2 separate regions of the Homo sapiens genome follow, and region 2 is linked to region 1. The links come from fine-mapping of genetic effects on gene expression. A gene starts in region 1. The other region holds a variant in brackets. All regions are shown on one strand. Distances are from middle to middle. Region 1 holds the start of PRPF40B (pre-mRNA processing factor 40B). Region 2 overlaps TMBIM6 (transmembrane BAX inhibitor motif containing 6).

The links. PIP is the estimated chance that this variant, and not a neighbour inherited with it, causes the effect. A credible set is the group of variants that fine-mapping cannot tell apart.
Region 2: its variant is the best candidate, but not a certain one, in a credible set for the expression of PRPF40B in whole blood (INTERVAL, PIP 0.70).

The regions. Positions count from the first base shown.
Region 1 is chr12:49,621,003-49,626,379 of GRCh38, reverse strand. PRPF40B (pre-mRNA processing factor 40B) reads right to left here and starts at 2,819. Exons shown (of 26, transcript NM_001031698.3): 1 at 2,787-2,819. The coding sequence starts at 2,789. It also overlaps a transcript of FAM186B not described here. RefSeq lists silencers at 2,604-3,103, 3,964-4,013 and an enhancer at 3,684-3,773.
Region 2 is chr12:49,748,874-49,754,250 of GRCh38, reverse strand. TMBIM6 (transmembrane BAX inhibitor motif containing 6) reads right to left here. Exons shown (of 10, transcript NM_003217.3): 2 at 1,702-1,787; 3 at 1,170-1,278. The coding sequence starts at 1,757. Among named protein-coding and RNA genes, the nearest start is that of TMBIM6, 10 kb to the right of the region's middle. RefSeq lists an enhancer at 311-400. The variant T/C (reference allele first, on the strand shown) is at 2,648.

The DNA.
Region 1 (5,377 bases):
GTGGGACTGCTTGTCTCCCACTCATGTGGGGATTTCCCTACATTCAGGGATTGAGTTTTCTCCTTTTATACCTCCCCCAAGTGTTTAGTCAGGGCCCTGCACACAAAGTGCTGTGATAAAATGCAGTCTCATCTCTAACCTTATTAGATTTTTGCATACTGGAATATCCTAAAATGCACTTTGAAAACAGTGTATACACGTGTGCATATGTACATCTGTATAAATTCTCTGACATACAGGCTGTGACAGAGAGAGGTAGCTTGGCAGAAGTCTTTGTGGCTTGGAAAAAGGAAATTGGATTGAAATGTTGGCATGAGAAAACCTAATAAAGCTAACTGTATACAGTCATCTTCAACTTGGGATGAAGACCTCTGGCCAGGATTCAGACACTGGCCTATTCTGGACAGTTCCCCACAGAGGACAGAACAATGGAATAAACATAAACTACTACAGAACTTCCAAAGCCCTTCCTTCGCTGAGCTTCCCGTGTTGTGTCCCTGCTTTCCTGAAACACCCCGTCCCTCTCCTACCTGCTGCAGTGCCATAAAACTTTGGGTCTTATTTTATTTCTGGGTGAGAATATGAAGACATTAACTAGTGACAGGGAAGGATATAGAAATGGTTGCTGAAAGAGAAGCAGATCCTGTGTCTTCCCTGGAACAAAAACACATTTGTGGGCTGAGAGATGATGAAGAGACACTTGATCATCTGATCATCATATGTTCACCTGGGCCAGTGAGGGGCCACCCCTTTCCCACCACCAAAGATGCAATCAATACTTCTGGGACTTCACATCTAAGGGGCATCTCAGAACTTAGCACTCAGAAGAATAAAAGGAGAAAAGGACAAGAATGGAGAGGCAGTAGGAAAAAAAACAGAAAGAGGGAATGATAACAGCTAATAGCTAATATTTACTGAGCACTTATTATGAGCCAGATACTGTGTCAAACACTCATTTAATCCTGGCAACCATCTCAGAGGTTATTATTCCCATTTTACAGATAAAGAAACTGAGGTTCAGAGATTAAGTAACCTGACCAAGGTTCCAAGACATTAAATGGGAGAGGCAGGTTTGGAATCCAAGCAGTCTGACTCCAAAGCCTGTGCTTTCAACCAGTTCACAAAGCTGCCTCCCAGCAAGGATGATGGCGCCACAGATGATACTGCTTACATTCAGATACATTTCCTTTTTTCTTTTTTAACCCCAATCCTTACACAATCCAGAAATCCTCAGCGAGCCAGGTGTTCCCAAGGTCTGCTTGGTCTGACTCATTCCCACTTCCTGAAGATGAAGGCTGGGAGGCACATCTCTCAGAAAGTGGTAGCCATCATCAAAAAAAAGGCTGAGAGACCAGCTGGTTACCCTGTGATCTACCTGCGGCCCTTCTTCAGCTGCCCCAAACAGCACCTGCCCTTCCGTTTCAAAGACCATCCTAGTTTCCAACTTTCCTGGACCAGCCCTACTCTTCCTCTTGCTCCCCAAAGATCTGCCTTACTAGAAAGTATCTTCCTGTTGCTTTTTTTTTTTTTTTTTGAGACAGAGCTTCGCTCTTGTTGCCCAGACTGGAGTGCAATGGCGCGATCTCAGCTCACCACAACCTCTGCCTCCCGGGTTCAAGTGATTCTTCTGCCTCAGCCTCCAGAGTAGCTGGGATTACAGGCATGGGCCACCACGCCTAATTTTGTATTTTTAGTAAAGACAGGGTTTCTCCATGTTGGTCAGGCTGGTCTCCAACTCCTGACCTCAGGTGATTCGCCCGCCTCGGCCTCCCAAAGTGCTGGGATTACAGGCATGAGCCACCGCGCCCGGCCCCTGTTGCTTCTTTCTGATCCTGCCATCTCATCACTCTCCCTCTGAAGAAGCGAATGTTACTTTTGGTCTCCATCATTGTGGAGTTAGGTTTCAACCTCCTCCTCTCCTTAGAGTTCTTCCATCCCTCCAACAGGATAAGGCTAGCCAGCCCCAGCCCGGCAGGCTTTCTGTCTACCATCCCCCCGCACCCGTGGGGATTTCTCCAGCCCCAGCCCAAGGCCTCGCCTCCATCTTCATCCTTTCCTTTGCTTCCCTACCAAACCCATTCTCCTAAACTTCCTCCTCAAAAACCTATTCATTTAGACCCTGGAAGAGATCTGGGATTTAATTTTCATGCATTTCCTTTTTAAAAAAATTGATGGGAAATCTGAGGCCCAAAGAAAGGTAGTGACTTGCCCAAGGTCACACAGAGTCGTTAGTTTGTTGATGGCCTGGGCTGGGAGCCCCTTTCTTCAGAGGCCCCCTCTCCACCTCAGGAGACAAGCTCTTGCAAATGCAGGAAGGTGAAGCAGGGAGTCCCCAAGTGGTCTGAGGAGCACCCAGGCTTCCAAAGGGAACGGGCGCTGGGGCTGGGGGAAGGGCATGTCGCACACCAAATATCCCAGGAGGGGAAACTGGTCCCCACCTGTCCCCTGGTCCCCTCAGTCCCCTCATCTCCGCCCTCTCTCTTCTTTCCCGATCTTTCTCCGCGAACCCACCCCCACCTCTCCCAATCCCACTCTTCACCCAGTCCCGCCACTCTCGCACCTTTCGCCCCCGGCCAGGCTCCATCATGGCCTCCCCCGCCCCTTCGCCCCCAGTCCCCGCCCCCATCCCCCCTCCCGGGCTCTCTTCCCTCACCCTTGGCCTCCCTCGCCCTCCCCGGGGTCCCAGCTATCCCCAGCGGCCTCCCCGCCCCATCGGCCACGGCCCGGGCCGCAGGGGGCGCTGTGGGACCGCCCCGAGCCCCTCCACCCCCGCGCGGGGATGTTACCATGCCAGAGCCTCCGAGCAGCTGGGCCGGCTCAGCCCACCCGCCAGTAAGAGCCGCTCTGATTGGCCAGGCCGCAGCCGGGAGGGCGGGGCCGGCGGGGGGTCGCACCCCTTCGTGGCCGGGGCTCCGGTGGCTCCCGCCGGCGAGCGGGGCCCCAACCGGCCCGGTGTGTTCGGTCCCGGCCCCGCCCCCCCGGCACGGAGAACCAGGCCCCGCCCCCGCGCCGCCGCGTCCCGGGTCCGCCCCCCGGGGGGCGGGGCACGCCTGCTCCCGCCTCTGACTGACGGTCGGGGGCCGGCGCCTCTGCCTCTCCCCGCTGCCTGCGTCCTGGCTTCGCAGTCGCCGGCGCTCCAGGAGCCGAAGCGTTCACGCAGTGTGTAGGGTGCCTTTGCGCTGCACAGCGAATTTAATTTGCTGTGTAGCTCTTTTACAGTACTTTTAAGTTAGTTAACTCCAGAACTATTTGTTGAGCACCTGTGAGGTGGCAGGGTCTGTCTCAGGGACTGAGCACACAGCAGCTTGGAAAAAAAAAAAAAAAAAGACAAATCCCCGAAATCACGCCCTTGTGGGGCGTACACGTGCTTCTCGCGTGACCCTGAAGTTCACTTTTGGGACCTGGCTCCCACTGAGCGCTGAACTCATGAGAGCAGGGCCCACTCTTTGACAGAAGTTAAAAATGTGAGGTACATGCTTGCTGTGCGGCTGAGGAAACTGTAACCTGGAGCTCTGCGGGGAATGCGCTGAAGGCCTTGGGGCTGGAGAGTGACAGGCCCCAGGCACACGGGTGCAGAAAGGCGCTGACCGCCAGCCTGCAAAGCCCCGCAAAAGGCGCTTCCTGTTCCCTTTATTCCCCCCTCACCTGAGCCGGGACTCGCGTGATGCCGTGCTAGGTTCCTGAGAGCCAAAGAACTCCGGAGAGGTAGAAAAACTCCTGACACGAAGAGTTAGAGGTGACACCTGGGAGGAAAAGGAAGTGGGATTCACCCTTGTGGGCTGCTGTAGAGAGAAAATGCTTTGTGGTTTAATCAAAATGATACCCACATGGTCTCAAATGAAGGCCCAGCTCTGCGGTTTTCTTTTCTTATTTGAGGCAGCGTATTGATCTGTCACCCAGGCTGGAGTGCAGTGGCACAATCAGGGTTCACTGCAGCCTCAGCCTCCTGGTCTCAACCGGTCCTTCTCCCTCAGCCTCCGAGTAGCTGGGACTACAGGCGTGTGCCACAACGCCCGGCTAATTTTGTAACTTTTTGGAGACGACGTCTCCCTGTACTGCCCACGCTGGGTCCTGTGGTTTTCAAACTTTTGGGGGAGGTGGGGTGAGGAGACTGGCGCGCGGCCCGCAGCCGCCGCCGCGGCAGGAGAGGGGAATGGAGGGGGCGGGCGGGGGGAGGAGGACGGACCACCGGCGGCCTCTCCACCGCTCCCACCTTCCCCCGGGGGCTGCCGCGATGCCAGCGCAGCTGGGGCGATTTTCAAACTATTATTGAGATCTCTAAGTATAGCAGAAGTGGTCCAGAGGTTCCGTGAACTTTCATGAATTGCATTTTTATTTTTTAAATGCTTTTCTTTTCTTTAATGAAATATTTCTTAGAACATGTACACACATATAGAATCGAATAATTGTACCAGATTTGTTAAGACAAACAGCAGAGCCCTGCCCCCATCGTCTTCCCCTCTCTGGAGGCAACGTTTTCACCTCTTTTAGCTGTTTCTTCTGGCATTTACCTTCACATCTCCGGCCTTCCCCCAGCTGCAGCCCTCCCCACAGGGCAAGGGGTCCAAGGGGATTTGCCCATGCAAAGCACACTTGCCCAGGATTAGACCATATTCTGAATACCTAGGACCCTGGAATTCCCTGCCCAGCTTCCTCCTTGGGTCTGTCCTCCCCAGGGAGACCTTCTGTTTTTTCCTGCACAAACTTTTATTTTTCCTGGAATTAATAATCTTGTTTTTTAAAATCATTTATTTTCTATGTATTTCTCACAAACTCTACCTCAAATTCTTCCCCCAGTTGCTTAAATTTCCTCTCAGAATATCTAGATATAGCAGAGAATTCTCTCCATTTCATCTTCTTGAAGACATCACTGCTGGAGACTGCTGACCTTCTCCAATCTGACTGTTCATCCCCTCACCTTGCTGCACATCTGGCAACCTGGCATCTCTTTTCTCATTCTCCTGGGCATGTTCTTTGCCTCATTCTTTTGTTGTTGTTGTTTTGTTTTGAGACAGAGTCTCGCTCTTGTTGCCCAGGCTGGAGTGCAGTGGCTCACTGAACCTCTACCACCCGGGTTCAAGCTATCCTCCTGCCTCAGCCTCCCAAGTATCTGGGACTCCAGGCATGCGCCACCACACCCGGCGAATTTTTGTATTTTTAGTAGAGATGGGGTTTCACCATGCTGGCCAGGCTGGACTTGAACTCCTGAGCTCAAGTGATCTGCCTGCCTCGACCTGGCAAAGTGTTGGGATTACAGGCGTGAGTCACTTTGCCTGGCTGCCTCACTCTTCTGTGGGATTTTTATTTGCCATATTCTATGCTTTTCTTTTCTTTTTTTATTTTTTTGACATGGTCACTTATTTTTATAACAATACAT
Region 2 (5,377 bases), 130 kb before region 1:
ACTTGGGAGGCTGAGGTGCGAGGATCAATTGAGCCCAGGAGTTTGAGACCAGTCAGGACGACACCACAAGACCTCCACTCAAAAAACCCAGCAAAATCACCAATTAAAAGCACAAAAATACAAAGGAAGTGGCACTAAATGACCATGAAAAGAACATTTGTTTACAATACGAGAACTGAAACAAGAAGGCAGAGCACTGTCTTGTTCAACCTCAGCTGAAAACACTGCAACAGCAGGGTGACTCAACTTTTTCACCACTCTGTGACTGTCTGCAAAAAGTGCCATGAGTAACAGAGCGAGACTCTGTCTCAAAAAAAAAAAAAAAAGTGCCATGAGTATTGATTTTGGGGTTACAAATTTTAATGAGTAGGTGAATTCACAAATATAGAGTCTGTGAATAACAAGGATTGACTGTATTTTACTAAATTATTTAAGGGCTAACCTTGCCTAAAACTCAAGCGATCAAAGCCCTATCCTTTGAGTGTCTAAAGTAATTTTTCACACAATCCCTGCCAGGAGATGCCTGAACATAAGGATAGTTCTCAACAGTGGCAAATGCCAACAGAGGCCCACCTCTACATTTATGCTAAAAGGAATACTCTACAAAGGCACAAGACTATGTTAGGGAGTCTTCAAACTTTCTGGTTATTCCTCAAACTGTACCTTCTACTCCTGCTGACCAAACCCAGATTCTCTCTCAATACAGGAAAACAAATTGTTGAAGGTTTTTACCCAACCATGCAGACAACAGTTATCGGAAAATAAAACAGGTCAATTCCTTAAAAAGATCTCAATCCTGCCTCTCCTGATAGTTAATCACACAATCAGAGTTTTGTAAAGGAAGAATGGAGGAAAAGATAAAAAAGCTTCTGTGCCAAAGAATCCCAGCATGCATGCCATGCGCCTACTCAGTGGGTGGGGGTCTTGTACGTCAGCAGCACACCATTCAGTGCCAAGGTTAAGGCATTCTGTTTTTCGGTATCTAGAGGGGGCACAGTTGCCAGAAAATTAAAATGGCTTTACATGTCCTGATTTAATGTCTGAGTTTAAATCCTAAACTACTGATAAAGATTAAAGAGAGGAACAGGGTCCCTTGGACCACCTTGCTGAGCTGGTTTTTTCCTAATGTAATTTGTACCACAGCAACCAGGAGAGAAAATCGTTCTTACCTGAATGAAATGAGTGACCATATGGACATAGGCCCCTGCAGCCGCCACAAACATACAAAGGGCAAAACTTGCATAGACCTTCTTCAGGTGCTGCTGCGTTGACGGGGTTCTAAGAAAAGAATGTGAATAAGAGCAATCAGTCCCAGATCAATCTCATATTTAAGCTAAGAAGAATCATTTCTCTCTTTCCCTTCCTGGGAATATGTAAAAGTTCTGTTACAAATAGTTTGAAATACTTTTAGGAAAGCATATTACAATAAAAAATAATATTTTGAAAATAGGTTAACAGAACCTTAAATGCTGAGGAAGACCAAATGCCCAAAATTATGAATAATCAGTACCCAAACTAGAATAAATGCCTTTCCAATAACCACACAGCAACGTGTAGAATTTGGACATTTTCATCAGGTCCTCTGGATTCTGGCCAAGTTAATTTGTTAGCTTATACACACAAAAGTTATAAATGCAGAAAAGGGACAAAGAGATATGAAAAGAAATGCAGTACAAAACCAGTCAAGGTCAAAACACTTACATATGAGAAAATTTTAAAAGCGCATCAAAGTTGATCTTTCGATCAAATATGTTCATGGTTCCAGAGTCCGTGCAGCAGTCTCCACTCTGCAGAATAAAGAAAGGTTAGAGTCATTAAGTCATACAGAATCACACGAACAGCTTATAAAAAAAAAAAAAAGCAACATGTAAGTTCAGAAAGATGAAAACTTGCCTAAAATTCTACAGCCCTAACACAACCATTTTTATTTTTATGTGTCCTACAATATATTTGCAATCATAGTCAACCATCTTAAAGACGACAGAGGAATTGAATGCATCTTCTTCTCCCTCAAACTATTTTGTTACTATCATCTGATTTCTATTCTTTCAGGTGATTTGCCACTTTAAAAGGCAGTAAGTTTATAAAAGAAATTCTCAATTAACAATCTAGTTAAAGGAACCTAGACATTGGCACATAAAGCAATTTTATGTCATTGTTTCAAGATGCTAAAGAATTCCCTTGGCTGGGCATAGTGGCTCACTGAGGCCTATAATCCCAGCACTTCTGAGAGGCTGAGGTGGGCGGATCACCTGAGGTCAGGAGTTCGAGACCAGCCTGGCCAACATGGTGAAACCCTGTCTCTACTAAAAATACAAAAATTAGCTGGGTGTGTTGGCACACACCTGTAATCCCAGCTACTCAGGAGCCTAAGACAGAAGAATTGCTTGAACCTGGGAGGCAGAGGCTGCAGTGAGCCAAGACACGCCACTGCACTCCAGCCTGGGCAACAGGGCAAGAGTCCATCTCAAAAAAAAAAAAAAAAAAAAAAATTATCTCACTAGCAGCACCTCAAAGATAAAAAACAAAACTTTGACTAGTCTTAACAAAACAAACAAAAACTATAAAGCTGGGTCTGGCATTAAGACTTGCATTTTAAATATATGCGTATCAAATTTTCTTAACCTAACACATTTAAGAACTGAAC[T/C]GAAAAGGACTCACAATTTTAAAAAAAGAGAGGTTCCTACCTCCATAAAAAAGGAATTTATGCAGAAAGGAGGATTTTTTGGGGGGTATTTTTTTGACAGTTTCAGAACCTTTCCTACAGAAAGGTTAGAACAGTACAAAGAATTCCTGTACAACCTTCACCCAGATTTCCTAAATGCTAATATTTCACATTTGCTTCATCTTCTTTCTATATAGCAATATATAGACAGATGTAAAAATATTTTTTCCCTAACCATACAGACACAGTGCTCCTAAACACTTCAGTGTGTATATCCTGAAAGCAATGATCAAAATCAGGATATTAATACTAATGCAATACTATTTCTAATCTGCAGACCTTATTCAGATTTTTGCCAACTGTCCCAATGTCAAAAAGGGCATTTTTAAACTGAACTATATCCAGGTTAGATCATATCAACACCATAAAGTCAAGTTCTTAAGTTTTGCTCCCTCCCCTATTTCACATGCAATCCTAAGTAAACGTGTTCAATCTACAGTACTAAAGATCCAGTCAAGAACTTTCATCTCTTCTAAATATAAATCCTCCAAACTCCTATCAGGGCCATAATGCCCATCCATTTTAAATCTACCAGAAAAGGAGGGGCAGGGAGGAAGGGATTCAAACATAAAGTTGTGTGAAACGCCACCTACTGAATGAAGCACTCTAATCAGCACCCAGCCCAACACTCAGAACAATTCATCTAGGTAATAATAAAAGTTACAGTCCCCAAACAAATTTCCTAAGGAATCCTGGGCCAGTGGAAAGATATAAACATCATCTGCTTCCTGAGGCTCTCTCCCACAAATGAAACAATCACAATGGCTGGCTTGCTTTCTCTGGTTTCTTCTTTCCTTCTCTCATTAACATCACTACTCACCTCAGAACTTTTGTTAATTCTGTTCTTAAGGACAGATACAGTGAGAAGCTGCAGAACCTACTAAGGTTGTTGCTCTCTCCTCTGAGTCACACGGATCTGGGCCCTCTTGATCTAGATGGTGCAATTATTGCAGGTTGTTACAAGGCCAACCACAGCCTTCCATAACCAAGATGAATATGACTATGTCCTCTAGAGAGCACACTTACAGCATGGCAGAATTCAGCACCTGGAAAGTGTCTTTGTTTAAGGTTTCCCATTAACACCCCTAATGACATCCCTAGACAGCACTTACAATAATACTGAAGCAACTTTCAGAGCCAAGTTTCTCAGTATTCACAACAGCAATGCTAAAGAACCTCTTGCTTCCAATTACAAGAATTAAAGAAAGGTAAGGGATGGAGCGGGGTGGATCCTCAAACGCCCAGGGGATTCTAAGAAAGAGGCAATGCTCATGTAACCAGACCCTGCTTGGCGGAATCTGTTCGAGGGGAGAATGGCAGAAACTCCCCTTTCTCAGATACTTCTCTGACGTTTCCCAGGGGGTACTGACTGCCTCTTTCTGGTTCTCTCTTAACAACTGTTGATGGAAAAACCAAAACCATCAAAGGCTGTGTGGGTTGGGGCAGGGGGATGAGATGTCAAACGGCAATTTCACTTTGATTTAATAGAAGCTTGTGGTTTGAAATCATTAAAAAATAACTAAAACTTCTGTTTTTCAATATCAGTATTTCAAAATTTAAAACAAAACATGTAACTACCAAATATTATAGACGCAAAAGGGCACAGCAATTTTATTAGCTTTATGGAGAAAAAAAAGAAACCTGGTAAAGCAGATGGTCCCTGACTTACCAGGGTTGACCTATCACTGGGAGAAATTGATACTCATTCGGTACACTCCTTGATTTGCGATGGCTTACATCTGGATACACCCATTGTAAATTAAAAATATCGTTGACTCAAAAATGACTTACAGGTTGGGCACAGTGGCTCACGCCTGTAATCCCAGTACTTTGGGAGGCCGAGGCAGGTGGATCACTTTGACGTCAGGAGTTCGAGACCAGTCTGGCCAACACGGCGAAACCCTGTCTCTACAAAAAATACAAAAATTATCTGGGCATAGAGGCACGCCCCTGTAGTCCCAGCTACTTGGGAGGCTGAGGCAGGAGAATCACTTGAATCCAGGAGGTGGAGGTTGCAGTAAGCCGAGATCACACCACTGTACTCCAGCTTGGGCAACACAGCGAGACTCCGTTTCAAAAAAAAACAAAAATGACTTACAAAAAGAAAAGGACTTACATTTTCAACTTACGGTATTTTCAACTTATGATGGGGTTTTCCAGATGCAGCCCCGTCTTGAGGAGCATCTGTATACATTTAATGTATATGACACAATGTACAGATGACAATTTCAGAAATGTTAAAATGTGAGAGGGAATACATAGGTCTTAGAATCAAAGAAATATGATAGTTTGCTCTAGAGCTGTTCCAAATAGACAAGAATATACAGATAAGTAATGAGATCAAACTGTTCTGACAAGTTTTGCCAGATAAAATAAACTTACCAAGTTTCAATCTTAGCTTCAACTAGCGAAGCTCAGAAAAGATACCTACATTTCAATGGCCGATATGCAAACTCAGCCAAACAAGATTAAGTTGCACTTAACTCAAAAATAGCAGCTCTCATATCAAGTATTTTCCATTCTAGGAGCAATCAGCTCTTAAGAGCTTGAAGTATTATATTCAGTACCATTAACCAAGTAACTCGCTAACATTCCAGAGGAGCCCACAGTTAAATGAAAATCTTTGTTTTAAAAAAACACATTAAAATGTTA